Homo sapiens: one gene and its partner. The protein of the gene in region 1 interacts with the protein of each later gene in a pairwise test. Each region holds a gene or a part of one and is shown in the gene's direction. Other genes may lie near its edges. The genes, in order: SHISA5 and DESI1.

Region 1 (7,634 bases):
TTGAGAAAGTTCACCCTCCTATCAGGAGGCCAGTGCACTGGTGAGGGAGAGAGGGAGCCCAGTTAGGGCAGCTCTGTTGTGGCCCGTGGGATAGGGCAAGGCTGAGGGGGAGCAGTGGCCAGGGGTCAGAAGGTGGCCTGTGGCTAGGGTGGCTCAGAGACGGTGCAGCATGTGTGTGTGTGTGTGGTCTGGTGGCTGTGCCAGGGAGGGCGCTGTGTCTGCTGGGGCCTGGCCCGTGGGCACAGGTGAACAGATGTGTTTCTCCTCTCCAGCACGTGGTGAGGTGTGTATGGCTTCCCGTGGACTCAGCCTCTTCCCCGAGTCCTGTCCAGATTTCTGCTGTGGTACCTGTGATGACCAATACTGCTGCTCTGACGTGCTGAAGAAATTTGTGTGGAGCGAGGAAAGGTGTGCTGTGCCTGAGGCCAGGTGGGTGCACCAGTGGGTCACAGGGTGGGTGGCTTGAGCCTGTGCCCCACAGGAGAGTATGTGGAAGAGAGATAGCTCTGCCCCTCTGGCCTCTCAGCCCTCTCAAGATGGTGGCCAGAGCATTGGAGCAGAGGGTTTAGGGATCCCCTGTTCTGGGCTGGACCCCCTAGACCTGCTCAGTTAGTCCCCTGTCCATCTCCTCCCTACCCTGAGGGCTCCAGCTTGCTGAGCCTTGGGCTGAGCAGGTTTCTTAGAGGTCCTTGGCCTCAGCTGGTCCTGTGACTCACCCCGGGTGTGTACCTGTGCCAAGATGTCCTCAGGGTGGGTACTTGGGCTTGACTATACCCCACAGTATGCGCATGCCCCTGAGGGGTATCCTTTGTTCAGAACCCGCTTGTGGAGCCTGTAGGGTGCAGTGCGTAAGCATGTGCCCCAGTGTGAGCTCTATCTGTGTCCTCCCAGCGCAGCCTATGAATTTACCTGCATGTTGGGTGTAGACTGTTTCATGGCTGGGACCAAGGTTCCAGGCCCCTGTGTGTGGCTCTTTGCCGTATTCTGTATTTCCTTTGTGTTTGGCCTCGGTGTAGAGGGTTGAGATGGTCATACTCCTCTGCTCATGGCAGGTGATCATCCTGGGTCTGGGCAAGACCAACCCCCGCTATCTTACATATTTATTTTTGTGAGATGGAGTCTCACCATGTTGCCCAGGCTGGTCTCATACTCCTGGGCTCAAGCCATCCTCCTCCCTCAGCCTCCTGAGTAGCTGGAACTATAGGTGTGCACCACCATGCCTGGCCTATATATTTACTTTAATATGTCAGGACCATTTCATTCCTTTCCCACCCCACAGGCAACCGTCTGCTATGGTCTGCTATGTATAAGGTACATCCTTTTCATTATTTGAGTTCTTGCAAAGTCGGTGTAGTGTAAGACCTAGCCACATTGCTGTGGCACATCTGGCCCTTGCCCACTACTGCTGTGTCCCTCTGAATGGTGTGAATCCACAATGGTTGTCATGATAGATAGCTTCAGTGGGCATCTGGTATACCTCCTTTTATGGAGCTGTGTAAGAATTCTCTTGGAAACACATCTGGTTGTGGAGTTGCCATGTCATAGATGCACACAGTTATCCACTAAGGACTTCCAGGTGCTCTTGGGAGTGGTGCACAGGGCTGCACACCTGTCAGTCCTGCCTGAGGGTTCCTGACAGGTCTTCTTCTACCCTTTCACCCTTTCACTTCACCTTTTGGCTTTTTTTTTTTTTTTTTTTTTGAGACGGAGTCTCACTTCTGTTGCCCAGGTTGGAGTGCAATAATGTGATCTCGGCTCACCGCAACCTCCGCCTCCCGGGTTCAAGCAATTCTCCTGCCTCAGCCTCCCGAGTAGCTGGGATTATAGGCGTGCACCACCACACCTGGCTAATTTTTGTATTTTTGTATTTTTTTTTTTTTAGACAGAGTCTCGCTCTGTCACCCAGGCTGCAGGCTGGAATGTGGTGGTGCGATCTTGGCTCACTGCAAGCTCCGCCTCCCAGGTTCACGCCATTCTCCTACCTCAGCCTCCCAAGTAGCTGGAACTACAGGCGCCCGCCACCACGCCCGGCCTAATTTTTGTATTTTTACTAGAGATGGGGTTTCACCATGTTCACCAAGCTGGTCTTGAACTCCTGACCTCAGGTGATCTGCCCATCTTGGCCTGCCAAAGTGCTGGGATAACAGGCATGAGCCACCGCGCCTGATGGTATTTCTTTTTTTAAAAGCAGGAGCATTTATTCCATTTAAATTTAATGTAGAGGGCCGGGGGTTGCTGTGGCTCATGCCTGTAAGCCCAGTACTTTGGGAAGCTGAGGTAGGAGGATCACTTGAACCTAGCAGGTTGAGACTGCAGTAAGTCGTGATTGGTGCCACTGCACTCCAGCCTGGGCAACAGAGTGAGACCTCGACTCAAAAATAAATTAATTAATTAATTTAATGTAGTTATTGATATTCTGGGGTTATATTTGCATCTTTTGTGCTATTTGTCTCTCCTGCATTATCTTTTTTTTTTTTTTTTTTGAGATGGAGTTTCGTTCTTGTTGCCCAGGCTGGAGTGCAATGGTGTGTTCTTGGCTCACCACAACCTCCACCTCCTGAGTTCAAACAATTCTCCTGCCTCAGCCTCCTGAGTAGCTGGGATTACAGGCATGTGCCACCACGCCCGGCTAATTTTGTATTTTTTAGTAGAGACAGGGTTTCACCGTGTTGGCCAGGCTGGTCTTGAACTCCCGACCTCAGGTGATCCTCCTGCCTCGGCCTCCCAAAGTGCTGGGATTACAGGCGTGAGCCACCGCGCCCGTATGCATTATCCTTTTTTTACTTCCTGTATTGTTTCGATTTGTTTTTACGCCATATTTTTCTTCGACTGTTACTTCTTCTTTTCCATTCTGTCTTTTTTTTTTTTTTTTTTTTCTTTCTGGAGACAGTCTGTGTCTCCCAGGCTGGAGTGCAGTGGCGCGTGATCTCATCTCACGGCAACCTCCACCTGCCAGGTTCAAGCAATTATCCTGCCTCAGCTTCCCATGTAGCTGGGACCACAAGTGCATGCTGCCACGCCTGGCTAATTTTTTGTATTTTAGTAGAGACAGGGTTTCACTGTGTTGCCCAGGTTGGTCTCGAACTACTGAGCTCAGGCAATCTGTCTGCCTCGGACTCCCAAAGTGCTAGAATTACAGGCATGAGCCACTGCCCCCAGCCTTCTTTCCTATTCTGAATGTCTTATTTCTTTTTCTTGCCTTATTGTGTTGGCTAGGCCCTCAGTTACAATGTTGAGTAGAAGTGGAGAAAGCAGACATCTGTGTCTTGTTTCCGAGTTTAGGGGGAAGACATTCAGTTTTTCACTAGTAGGAAGGATGTCAGCTGTGGCTTTTTCATAGGTGTCCTTTATCAGGTTGAGGAAGTTCTCTGCATTTCTAGTACACCTAGAGTTTTAATTATGGATGGATGTTGAATTATGTCAAATGCTTTTTGTGCATTTGTAGAGATGACTGTATGATTTTAAAATTTTTATTCTGTTAATATGGTAAATTATATTACTCTCTAAAACACTATTTTATGTGAGTATAGAGCTTAGGTTGATGGTTATTTTTTCTTAGCATATTGAAGCTTCCATTCTACTGTCTCCCGGCTTCCATTGTTTCTGTTGAGACATCAACTCAACAGCCAGTGTCTCTCATTGAAAGAAATCTCTCTCTCTCTCTTCTTTTTTTTTTTTGAGACAGTCTCACTCTGTTGCCCAGGCTGGAGTGCAGTGGTGCAGTCACTGGCTCATGTCACTCTCAGCCTCCTGGGCTGAAGCATATCCTCCTACCTCAGCTTTCCAAGTAGCTGGGATTACAGGTGCCTGCCACCATGCCTGGCTAATTTTGTTTACTTTTTGTAGAGACAGGGTCTCCCTATGTTGCCCAGGCTTGTCTTAAACTCCTGGGCTCAAGTGATCCTCCCACCTCGACCTCCCAAAGTGCTGAGATTACAGGTGCACCTAGCTGAAATCCCTCTTTTTTTTTAACCCTCCGATTGCTTTTTAAGATTGTTTTTTTCTGGCCGGGTGCGGTGGCTCACACCTGTAATCCCAGCACTTTGGGAGGCTGAGGCGGGTGGGTCACGAGGTCAGGAGATCAAGACCTGCCTGGCCAAGATGGGGAAACCCCATCTCTACTAAAAATACAAAAATTAGCTGGGCATGGTGGTGGGTGCCTGTAATCCCAGCTACTCAGGAGCCTGAGGCAGAGAATTGCTTGAACCCAGGAGGCGGAGGTTGCAGTGAGCCAAGATCATGCCACTGCACTCCAGCCTGGGTGACAGAGCGAGACTCCGTCAAAAAAAAAAAAAAAAAAAAACTTGTTCTGGAAGCCTTAAGACCGTTAACCCCACAAGAAGTAGCAAGACAGACAGCAGACTGGAGAACAATGGCATGATCTCGGCTCACTGCAACCTCTGCCTCCTGGGTTCAAGTGATTCCCCTGCCTCAGCCTCCAGAGTAGCTGGAATTACAGGTGCCTGCCACCACACCCAGCTAAGTTTTTTGTATTTTTAATAGAGATGGGGTTTCACCAGATTACCCAGGCTGGTCTCAAACTCTTGGCCTCAGGTGATCCACCCGCCTCAGCCTCCCAAAGTGCTGGGATCACAGGTGTGAGCCACCACACCTGGCCATTTCTGTGGAATTGACATTTTACTATATTGAGTTTTCCAATGCATTAACATGGTATTTCTGCTCTTGTATTTAGTTTTCTTTCCTTCTCTCTCAATTTTCTATTATATAATATTTTTTCTATTTCAAAGTCTTATATATGTTTCATTTTTTCCTTTGTTTTTTTTTATGGTATTATAAATAGTGTAGTTTAAATTTCTTTTCTTTTTTTTTTTGAGACGAAGTCTAGCTCTTGTCCCCAGATTGGAGTGTGATGGCGTGATCACGGCTTACTGCAACCTCTGCCTCCCGGGTTCAAGCGATTCTACTGCCTCAGCCTCCCAAGTAGCTGGGATTACAGGGGCCTGCCACCTCGCCCAGCTAAATTTTTTTGTATTTTTAGTAGAGACGGGGTTTCATCATGTTGGCCAGGCTGGTCTCGAGCTCCCGACCTCAGGTGATCCATCCGCCTCAGCCTCCCATGTAGCCGGGACTACAGGCACCTGCCACCACGCCTGGCTAATTTTTTGTATTATTTTTAGTAGAGACGGGGTTTCACCATGTTAGCCAGGATGGTCTCGATCTCCTGACCTTGTGAACCACCTGCCTCGGCCTCCCAAAGTGCTGGGATTACAGGCATGAGCCACTGCACCCGGCCTAATTTTTGTATTTTTTTTTTTGACGGAGTCGCACTCTGTTGCCCAGGCTGGAGTACAGTGGCACAATCTCGGCTCACTGCAACCTCCGCTTCCCGGGTTCAAGTGATTCTCCTGCCTCAGCCTCTTGAGTAGCTGGGATTACAGGGGAACGCCTCCATGCCCAGCTAATCTTTGCATTTTTTTTTTTTAGCAGAGATGGGGTTTCACCATGTTGGCCAGGCTGGTCTCGAACGCCTGACCTTGTGATCCGCCTGCCTCGGCCTCCCAAAGTGCTGGGATTACAGGCTTGAGCCACTGCGCCCGGCCTAATTTTTGTATTTTTAGTTGAGATGGGGTTTTACCATGTTGGTTAGTCTGCTCTTGAACTCCTGACCTCAAGTGATCTGCCCTCCTTGGCCTCCCAAAGTTCTGGGATTACAGGTGTGAGCCACTGCACCCGGCCACAATTTTTATTTTCTAATTGTTTATTGATACATAAATGTGGAAAACTGTTTGGGTGTGGTGGCTCACGCCTGTAATCCCAACACTTTGGAAGGCTGAGGTGGGCAGATCACGAGGTCTGGAGTTCGAGATCAGGCTGGCCAACACAGTGAAACCCTGTCTCTACTAAAAAATACAAAAATTAGCCAGGCGTGGTGGCATGCACCTGTAGTCTTAGCCACTTGGGAGGGTGAGGCATGAGAATGGCTTGAACCCAGGAGGCGGAGGTTGCAGTGAGCTGATATTGTGTCACTGTACTCTAGCCTGGGCAACAGAGAGAGAGACTCCATCCCTGCCCCCGAAAAAAGTGGAAAAAAAAACTCAGAGTGCTTCTTCTATTCTCTCACACCAGAACAATCAACACAAGATTTCTGTGACCAAATGTATGGGAGTTTCTCCCCACCCACTGAACAAGCAATCAATTTTTTTTTTTTTTTGAGCCACTTCACTCCAGCCTGGGTGACAGAGCGAGACTCCCTCTCTATTAAAAAAAAAAAAAAAGCGTCGTAAAAGGAACATATTTTTTCTGGGTATGTATCTAGGAGTGGAATTACTAAGTTATTATGTGAATGTGTTCAGTTTAGGCAGATAACTTCCAAACAGCTTTCCAACATGTTATAAATGTGCCATTTGTACTCCCACCAGCCATATGTGAGGGTTCCAGTTTGCTCTACATCCTCTTCAAAACTTGGATTATAAATCTTTTTCAAAATATTGAGATATAGGCTAGGTGGAGTGGCTCACACCTGTAATCCCAGCACTTTGGGAGGCTGAGGTAGGAGGATCGCTTGAGCCCAGGAGTTGGAGGCTAGCCTGGGCAACATAGCAAGACTCAGTCTCTAAAAAGAAAAAAAAATAGATATATAATTACATACAGTAAAATGCACAGATCTTTCATGTTTCAGTTTGATGAGTTTTAACAGATGTATACATTTCATGTATACAACATGCTAGACCAGATATAAATCATTGTCATGGAAAAAAGTAGGAGGGTCCCCCAAAAATTAAAAATAGAGCTACCATGTGCATATGATCCAGCCATCCCATCACTGCGTATATATCCAAAGGATATGAAATCCATACCCCAAAGAGATACCTGCTCTCCCTTGTTCATTGCAGCATTATCACAATAGCCAAAGTATGCAATCAATCTACCTGTCCATCAGGATAAATGGATAAAGAAAATGTGGTATATGTACACAGCGAAATACTATTCAGCCTTAAAAAGAAGGAAATTGGCTGGGTGCAGTGGCTCACGCCTGTAATCCCAGCACTTTGGGAGGCCAAGGGGGGGTGGATCACGAGGTCAGGAGATCGAGACCATCCTGGCCAACATGGTGAAACCACGTTTCTACTAAAAATACAAAAATTAGCTGGTGGTGGTGCACGCCTGTAATCCCAGCTACTCTGGAGGCTGAGGCAGGAGAATCCCTTGAACTCGGGAGGCGGAGGTTGCAGTGAGCTGAGATCATGCCACTGCACTCTAGCCTGGCAACAGAGTGAAACTCCATCTCAAAAAAAAAAAAAAAAAGGAAATCCAGAAATCCTGTCATTTATGATGACATGGATGTACCTGGAGAACATTATGTTAAGTGAAATAAGCTAGGCGCAGAAAGACAAATACAGCACCATCTCACTTATATGTGGAGTGTCAAAGTCAAACTCATAGAAACAGAATAAAATGGTGGTAACCGGAGACTAGGAGGTGGCAGGATTAGGGAGATGTTGGTCAAAGGACACAAAATTTCACTTAGGAGGAGTAAGTTCAAGAGATCTATTGTACATCATAATGGTGACTATAGTTTATAATAATATGTTGTATACTTGAAAATTGCTAAGGAAGTAGATTTTGAGTGTTCTCACCACAAAAAAAGGTAAGTACGTGAAGTAATGCATATG
Region 2 (7,634 bases), on another chromosome or scaffold:
GCTGTGATAGAAAATAACAAGAGAGACCTTTTTTTTTTTTTTAGACGAGTCTTGCTCTGTTGCCCAGGCTGGAGTGCAGTGGGGTGATCTCAGCTCACTGCAACCTCTGCCTCCCAGGTTCAAGTGATTCTCCTGCCTCAGCCTCCAGAGTAGCTGGGATTACAGGCGCATGCCACCACACCTGGCTGATTTTTATATTTTTAGTAGAGACAGGGTTTCACCATGTTTGCCAGGCTGGTCTTGAACTCCTGACCTCAAGTGATCCGCCCGCCTCAGCCTCCCAAAGTGCTAGGATTACAGGCATGAGCCACTGCACCCAGTGAAGAGACCTATTTTAAATAAGGGTATCAAGGGTAGTGACTTTGAAAGTGGGAATTTAGGATGAGGAAGAAGTAGCCACAGGAGGGTAGTAAGGGAGTAACAGTGTTCCAGGTAGGAGAAAGATCAACCTGCCAAAGCCCTGAGACAGGAAAGAGTCTGGCCTGATACTGGAACTGAAAGAAGGCTTTTGTGGAGTGTAGTGGGTGAAGGGGAAAGTGCTGTAACTGAAGATGGAGTAATAGACCTGCCCCCTTCCCACTCCCCGCCCTTTTATATAGATGTAAAGTCCTGGAATGCCTCAGCCAAACATGGGAACATCACCCATTCATTGGGCACATCAGATTCTGATCTGAGGAAATCACCTTGTGTGCTAATCTACTTCTGTCTTCTCTACCTCTTTTTTCCATATTGCTTTTATACCTTTTGCAAAATTAATGAAGAAAGAATTAGCAAAGCTAGTAGTCATTACTTTCTAGAGTTGAACACTTAAGGAAAATAGGCATGGTCTTACTGATTCATCCCATTCAGACAACACAAATCTTGAAGTTGGGTATGTCCCAGTGCTATAAGTAGCCATATATTGATTTCCCATTCCTAAATACATTTGAACCTTTAAAAAATCAATTTGTTTCCTGATTTTTATGATGAATTCTAGAAGTATATTAATAGCCACTATTTATTGAGAGCTTACCATGTGTCAGACCCTTTTTTTCTGAGTACTTTGCGTGCATTATAATCCTCACCACAACTTTGTGAGATAAGTCCTGTTATTGCCTCCATTTTCTTGATTGAAGAACCTGAGAAGTAGAGTGTTAAGGAATTTGCCCCAGGTCCCAGAGCTACTAGGTGGTAGAGCTGGGTTATGAACACAGGCAGTCTGACTTCCAGAGCTCGCGTTCTCTGTCATTTTGAGATACCACCTCTGTGTAATACGTTCCTTTAAAATTGAAGTAAAGTAGATGCCTTCCTGAAGTTTGTAAAGGCATCCTTTGCCAAATGTTTCAAGTTTGGATGAGAAAAAAAGCTGGGTTCAATGTGTATGTGCCACTTACAATCTAGATTTATGATCATGCCTCTTAGTCTCCATTTTCCCAAATTAAATCCATGTGATCTCATCTGCAGTACCCTCTCAGGCTTCAGTTATGTCAGTTCTCCAATGGGAGACCTCATCTAGCTCTGTCGCAGTTCAGGATTAGACTAGATAAAGCCCAAGGTAATTCCCCTTTCCTGAAGCAATGTAAATTCCGTAGTTTTAGCCTGTCCTGTTTTCAGCCTCCTGGAATTGCCTCAAGTGAAGGCATTACTGTTCTATAGCTTTTCATTCACTATGAAAAATGGTCCCAAAATTATCTTCAGCATTCTAATTGAGCAGATAGCCTCATTGCACCTTTTTTCATAGTCACCAATTGCCTAAAATAATTAGCTATTATAAGTGTCCTTCAGTTCCTCCTCTTAATAATTTTGGCTGCTCTTTAAGTTTCTTGACCTCTTTTTGTGCCACAGTACATGCAGAAGTGTGTGTGTGTGTGTGTGTGTGTGTGTGTGTGTGTGTGTGTTTTAATTGTGGTAAGAAGTACTTCATATTTGTTTATTATTTTCTGATCAGAAGTTTCGTGTACATGCATCACGTTTATTTTTCTTTACAAGCCCATTTCAAAACTGTTTTCAGACTTAAAGATTTGGAGACATAGAATATATAAATTGCTTGGCAGAATGAATTCTAATGAATATTAGAGATTTTACACTATACTCAATTCTTTACTTCATTTTGTAGTACAAATAGTAATGAAATAAAAGATATGACGTGAACTCTGTCCTCCAGGAATTTTTCTTTTTTTGAGGCAGAGTTTCACTCTTGTTGCCCAGGCTGGAGTGTAATGACACGATCTCGGCTCACTGCAACCTCCGCCTCCTGGGTTCAGGCAGTTCTCCTGCCTCAGCCTCCCAAGGAGCTGGGATTACAGACATGTGCCACCATGTCCAGCTAATTTTTCTATTTTTAATAGAGACTGGGTTCCACCATGTTGGTCAGGCTGGTCTCAAACTCCTGATCTCAGGCGATCCACCCACCTTAGCTTCCCAAAATGCTGAACAAACCCCCCTCCCAAAGTAAGGCATGAGTCACCATGCCCAGCCCAGGAGTTTTTCTTAAAATATTATTTTCCTTTAAATAATGAATGTACACATATAACATTTGATAACAATATAAAACAGATTATGATTAGGTGCCAAAGTGAGTGAGTGGTGCATGAACTATGTTAGGCTTTGAAATAAGAGAGGCCATGGTGAGCTGAGCATGTCAGAGAGGCTTTGGCAAGAGCCTGGAGCTCCTGGAGGGCAAGGACTCTGTCCCCTTCCTATATGTCCCCAGTGGCCTGTTGGAGCAGGTGTTCAGTAAGTATTGATTATAGAAATGATTGAGACTTGAACTTAAGCTTGAAGATTAAGTAAAATTTATTCAAATCTGAGAGAGGTTTTTTCTGTTTTAATGCCATCTATTGTGCTTTGTTTTTGATTTTTGTTCACTGTGTGAACTGTTTTATACTCATCTAATGAATTAATTTAATAATCATTCAATTTCTTTAAGGCAAAATGGAAAGGAATATGGCTTACAAGGCCCTGCGTGATTCTGCTTTTTTAAATTTTCTTTTTTTTTTTGAGACAGAGTCTTGTTGTGTGCCCAGGCTGGAGTGCAGTGGCGCGTGCCTCCCAGGTTCATGCCATTCTCCTGCCTCAGCCTGCTGAGTAGCTGGGATTACAGGCGCCCGCCACCGTGCCTGGCTAATTTTTTTTTTTTTTTTTTTTTTTTAATTTTTAGTAGAGACGGGGTTTCACCGTGTTAGCCGGGATGGTCTCGATCTCCTGACCTCGTGATCCTCCCGCCTCGGCCTCCCGAAGTGCTGGGATTACAGGCTTGAGCCACCGCGCCCGGCCTGTATTTTTTTTTAGAAGAGACGGGGTTTCACCATGTTAGCCAGGATGGACTTGATCTCCTGACCTCGTGATCCGCCCGCCTCAGCCTCCAAAAGTGCTGGGATTACAGGCGTGAGCCACTGCATGTGGCCTGACCAGTGGTTTTCAAATGCTCTTTAGCTGTGAAACTCTTCCTTGAAATGAAATCTTCTGCAGATATGCATGTGGAAAACAGGTGAAAAGGAACTTTTTTGTTAAAAAAAAAAAAAAGAAGAAGAAAACAAGGTGGGGTGAGGTGGCTTATGCCTGTAATCCCAGCACTCTGGGAGGCCAAGGCGGGTGGATCACCTGAGGTCAGGAGTTTAAGACCAGCCTGGCCAAGATAGTGAAACCCCATCTCTACTAAAAATACAAAAATTAACTGGGCACGGTGGCGCATGCCTGTAATCCCAGCTACTCGGGAAGCTGAGGCAGGAGAATCGCTTGAACTCGGAGGGCAGAGGTTGCAGTGAGCCGAGATCATGCCACTGCACTTCAGCCTGGGTGATAGAGTGAGACTCCATCTCAAAAAAAAAAAAGGATGTAGGCCGGGCACAGTAGCTCACACCTATAATCCCAGCTACTTGGGAGGCTGAGGCAGAAGAATCACTTGAACCCCGGAGACGGAGGTTGCAGTGAGCCGAGATCACGCCACTGCACTCCAGCCTGGGAAACAAAGTGAGACTCTGTCTCAAAAGGAAAAAAGAAAGGATGTAAATTCACTCAATTCATTTTTAATGTTATTGTTGGCTCCAAGTGTTTGGTGGATGAATGAATAAGTGAAAGAATGAACAGGCTGGGTGCAGTGGTTAACCCCTGTAATCCCTGCACTTTGGGAGACCGAGGCGGGTAGATCACAAGGTCAGGAGTTTGAGACCAGCCTGGCCAGCATGGAGAAACCCCGTCTCTACTAAAAATACAAAAAATTAGCCGGGCATGGTGGCGAGCTCCTGTAATCCCAGCTACTCGGGAGGCTGAGGCAGGAGAATTGCTTGAACCCGGGAGGCGGGGGTTGTAGTGAGCCATGATTGCACCGCTGCACCCCAGCCTGGACAACAGAGCGAGACTCCGTCTTAAAAAAAAAAAGAAAGAATGAATAAATAAGGGGATCTTTTTTCTATAGTCCCTATCTCCACTCTATGAATGGATGAGATCCTAAGTGTACCTTGATGCAGTTGAATAGGAAGTGTGGCGTGTAGCTTACAGGCAAATTCAGTGATGATACAAAGGATATAAAGGAGAATAAAGTAGGGTTTGTATCCTGCAACTTTTGAGTTGTTTTTCAGGTGTGAAATAACTGAGGCCCCTCTTCAAAAATCTGTTTAGTAGGAATGGGTTTGAGCTGATGATACATCCATACCTGCCAGCTGTACTCCTGAGTCAGTGAGCATGCGCATCTGAGAAGACAGCAGTAGACTGGGAGTGCAGTATGCCAGGGTGGCAGAGTCATTGCAATAACAAGCCAGGCAGCCCAGATTGGGGTTAGGAACTTTGTCCTCAATAGCACTGTGTGTCAACCAACAAAGCTAACTAAACAGAACAGCTCATCTCAACAGATGTTCATGTCACATCTCAGGACCAGGTCCTTTGCTAGGTGCTGGAGTTATAAAGATACATAAGAAACTGTCCTGGTTACTGAGGCAACTGTAGTCTAACTGGGGAGAAGGACACGTGAATAGTTTCAATACCAGGGTACTATGAGAACAACTATAAAACTTTCAAATTATAAACCCTAGAAGAAATGAGTTAGCCTTTATTGGGCATGTATTATGTCCCAGACCCTGTGCTACGCATGTGTCATGTATCGTCTCTTTTAATCCTGGAAATGTTATGAGGCAGGCAGTGTTATTATGCTTTTTTTTACAGAATAGGAAACTATAGTTTAAACAGTGCGTCCAATAGAACTTTCTGCAGTGATGGAAATGTTCTAGATCTGCACTGTCCAGTAAGTAAACACTAGTCACATGTGGCTATTGAATACCTAAAATGTGGTTAGTGGAACTGAGGGACTGAATTTGTGCATTTATTTAACTTAAATAGCCACATGTGGTCAGTGGTCACCATATTGGACAGCTCAGGCTTAGTGTTCTCAGCCTCTGCAGTGTTCTCTGTGATCTGGTCCTCCATTACCTCTGGTCATCTTCTACTTCCCCTCCTCACCCATTCTAACTTCACTGGCCTCCTTACAGGCCTTCAGATAAACCTGGCATGTCATTGCCCCTGCATCCCTCTTTCCCTTGCCTCCTTTAAATCTTGGCTCAAAGCTGGGCCTGGTGGCTCACGCCTGGAGGTGGGAGGATCACTTGAGCCCAGTAGTTCAAGTCCAGGCTTGACAACATAGGGAGACGCCGTCTCAAAAAAAAAAAAAAAAAAGTAGGCCTGGGTGGTACACATATAGTCTCAGCAACTGGGAAGCTGAAGTGGGAGGATCACTTGAGCCTGGGAGGTCAAGGCTGCAGTGAGCTTTGATCGCGTTACTGCACTCCACCCTGAGTAGCAGAGCAAGACCCTGTCTCAAAAAAAAAAAAAAAATCTTCACTCAAATATCACATTCTCAAAGAGGCCCACCCTGATCATCCCTGAAACTCCCTTAACCTACTCTTTTTTTTTTTTTTCTTTTTTTGAGACAAGAGTTTTGTTCTTGTCGCCCAGGCTGGAGTGCAGTGGTGCAATCGCAGCTCACTGCAACACCTCCCGGGTTCAAGTGATTCTTCTGTCTCAGCCTCCCGAGTAGCTAGAATTACAGGTGTGTGCCACCATGCCTGGCTAATTTTTGTACTTTTAGTAGAGATGGGGTTTCACCATGTTGGCCAGGCTGGTCTCGAACTCCTGACCTCAGGTGATCCGCCCGCCTCTGCCTCCCAAAGCGCTCGGATTACAGGCGTGAGCCACTACGCCCAGACCCCCTTAACCTACTCTTGTTCGTTCTATACCATTCACTATTGCTAACATGTTATGACTTATTATCATCATTATTATTATTGACTGTCCCCTCCCCCCACCTAGTAAGTGTCATGAAGGAGGTTTTTGTTTACTGATGTATCCTTAGTGCCAAGGATAGTGCCTGGAAGGTAGTAGTCACTCAATAAACCATTAGTTCACCGTTTAAGCCAGTAGGATTCACACCCAACCTGTCTACACCAGAACCTGTGTTCTTATTCACTATATTGTACTTCCTCCTTGTAAGCGTAGCATTCCTCACAAAGTAAATGAGAAAAGCTTCATTTGAAAGGAACAGGGGCCAGGCGCGGTAGCTCACGCCTGTAATCCCAGCACTTTGGGAGGCCGAGGCGGGCGGATCACGAGGTCAGGAGTTTAAGACCAGCCTGGCCAACATGGTGAAACCCCATATCTACTAAAAATAGAAAAATTAGCCAGGCGTGGTGGTGAGCGCCTGTAGTCCCAGCTACTTAGGAGGCTGAGGCAGGAGAATCACTTGAACCTGGGAGGCGGAGGTTACAGTCAGCCAAGATCACACCATCGTACTCCAGCCTGGGCAACAGAGTGAGACTGTCTCAAAAAAAAAAAAAAAAAAAAAGAAGGAACAGGTAAGAGAAAGCAGGTATCCTTAATTTCTCCAGTTTCACTGAACTATTAAATGTCTTCACGTAAATAAACAAATTGCAGCCATTTAAACAGCTGATTTATAAATGACAGTTCAGAAGGGCACATCAGCTCTATTTAAAATGCAGTGTTAGGCCACATAGAGTGGCTCACACCTGTAATCCCAGTACTTTGGGAGGCTGAGGAGGGCAGATCTCCTGAGGTCAGGAGTTCGAGACCAGCCTGGGCAACATGGTGAAACCCAATCTCTACTAAAAATACAGAAATTAGCTGGGCATGGTGGCGCACACCTGTAATCCCAGCCTGTACTTGGGAGTCTGAGGCACCAGAATTGCTTGAGCCCAGGAGGCGGAGGTTGCAGTGAGCCAAGATCGTGCCACTGCACTCCAACCTAGGCAATAGAGTGAGACTCTGTCTCAAAAAAAGGAATGTTAGTCTCCCCATTTTACATATAGTAAACAGGAAAGAGGAGATTTAGTATCTTATAGCCCAGTGGAACCCAGGGTTTGAAGATGCTCGTCCTAAATGGATTACCACTCCCCTTTGGCATCCAGTCTGGTTCTCATCAACCACTGTGAAATTTCACCTCAGTTTGGATAAGGTCAGAACCTGCCTCACATTCTTTAGGGTGCTATCCCCAGAAACCCCTGGCTAGGATCCCTCTATCCACTTGTGGTCTTTTTTTTTTTTTTGAGACAGAGTTTCGCTCTTTTCACCCAGGCTGGAGTACAATGGCGCCATCTCAGCTCGTCGCAACCTCCGCCTCCTGGGTTCAAGTGATTCTTCTGCCTCAGCCT

What was found.
Region 2: the proteins of SHISA5 (region 1) and DESI1 interact in binary tests that used the Homo sapiens proteins (3 or more experiments, as listed by UniProt).

What each region holds. Positions count from the first base shown.
Region 1 is NC_000003.12:48,493,932-48,501,565, reverse strand, and holds part of SHISA5 (protein shisa-5 isoform a precursor), read left to right. Parts: intron 1-272; coding exon 273-429; intron 430-7,634. UniProt on the Homo sapiens protein: Can induce apoptosis in a caspase-dependent manner and plays a role in p53/TP53-dependent apoptosis.
Region 2 is NC_000022.11:41,610,769-41,618,402, reverse strand, and holds part of DESI1 (desumoylating isopeptidase 1), read left to right. Parts: intron 1-7,634. UniProt on the Homo sapiens protein: Protease which deconjugates SUMO1, SUMO2 and SUMO3 from some substrate proteins. Has isopeptidase but not SUMO-processing activity. Desumoylates ZBTB46. Collaborates with UBQLN4 in the export of ubiquitinated proteins from the nucleus to the cytoplasm.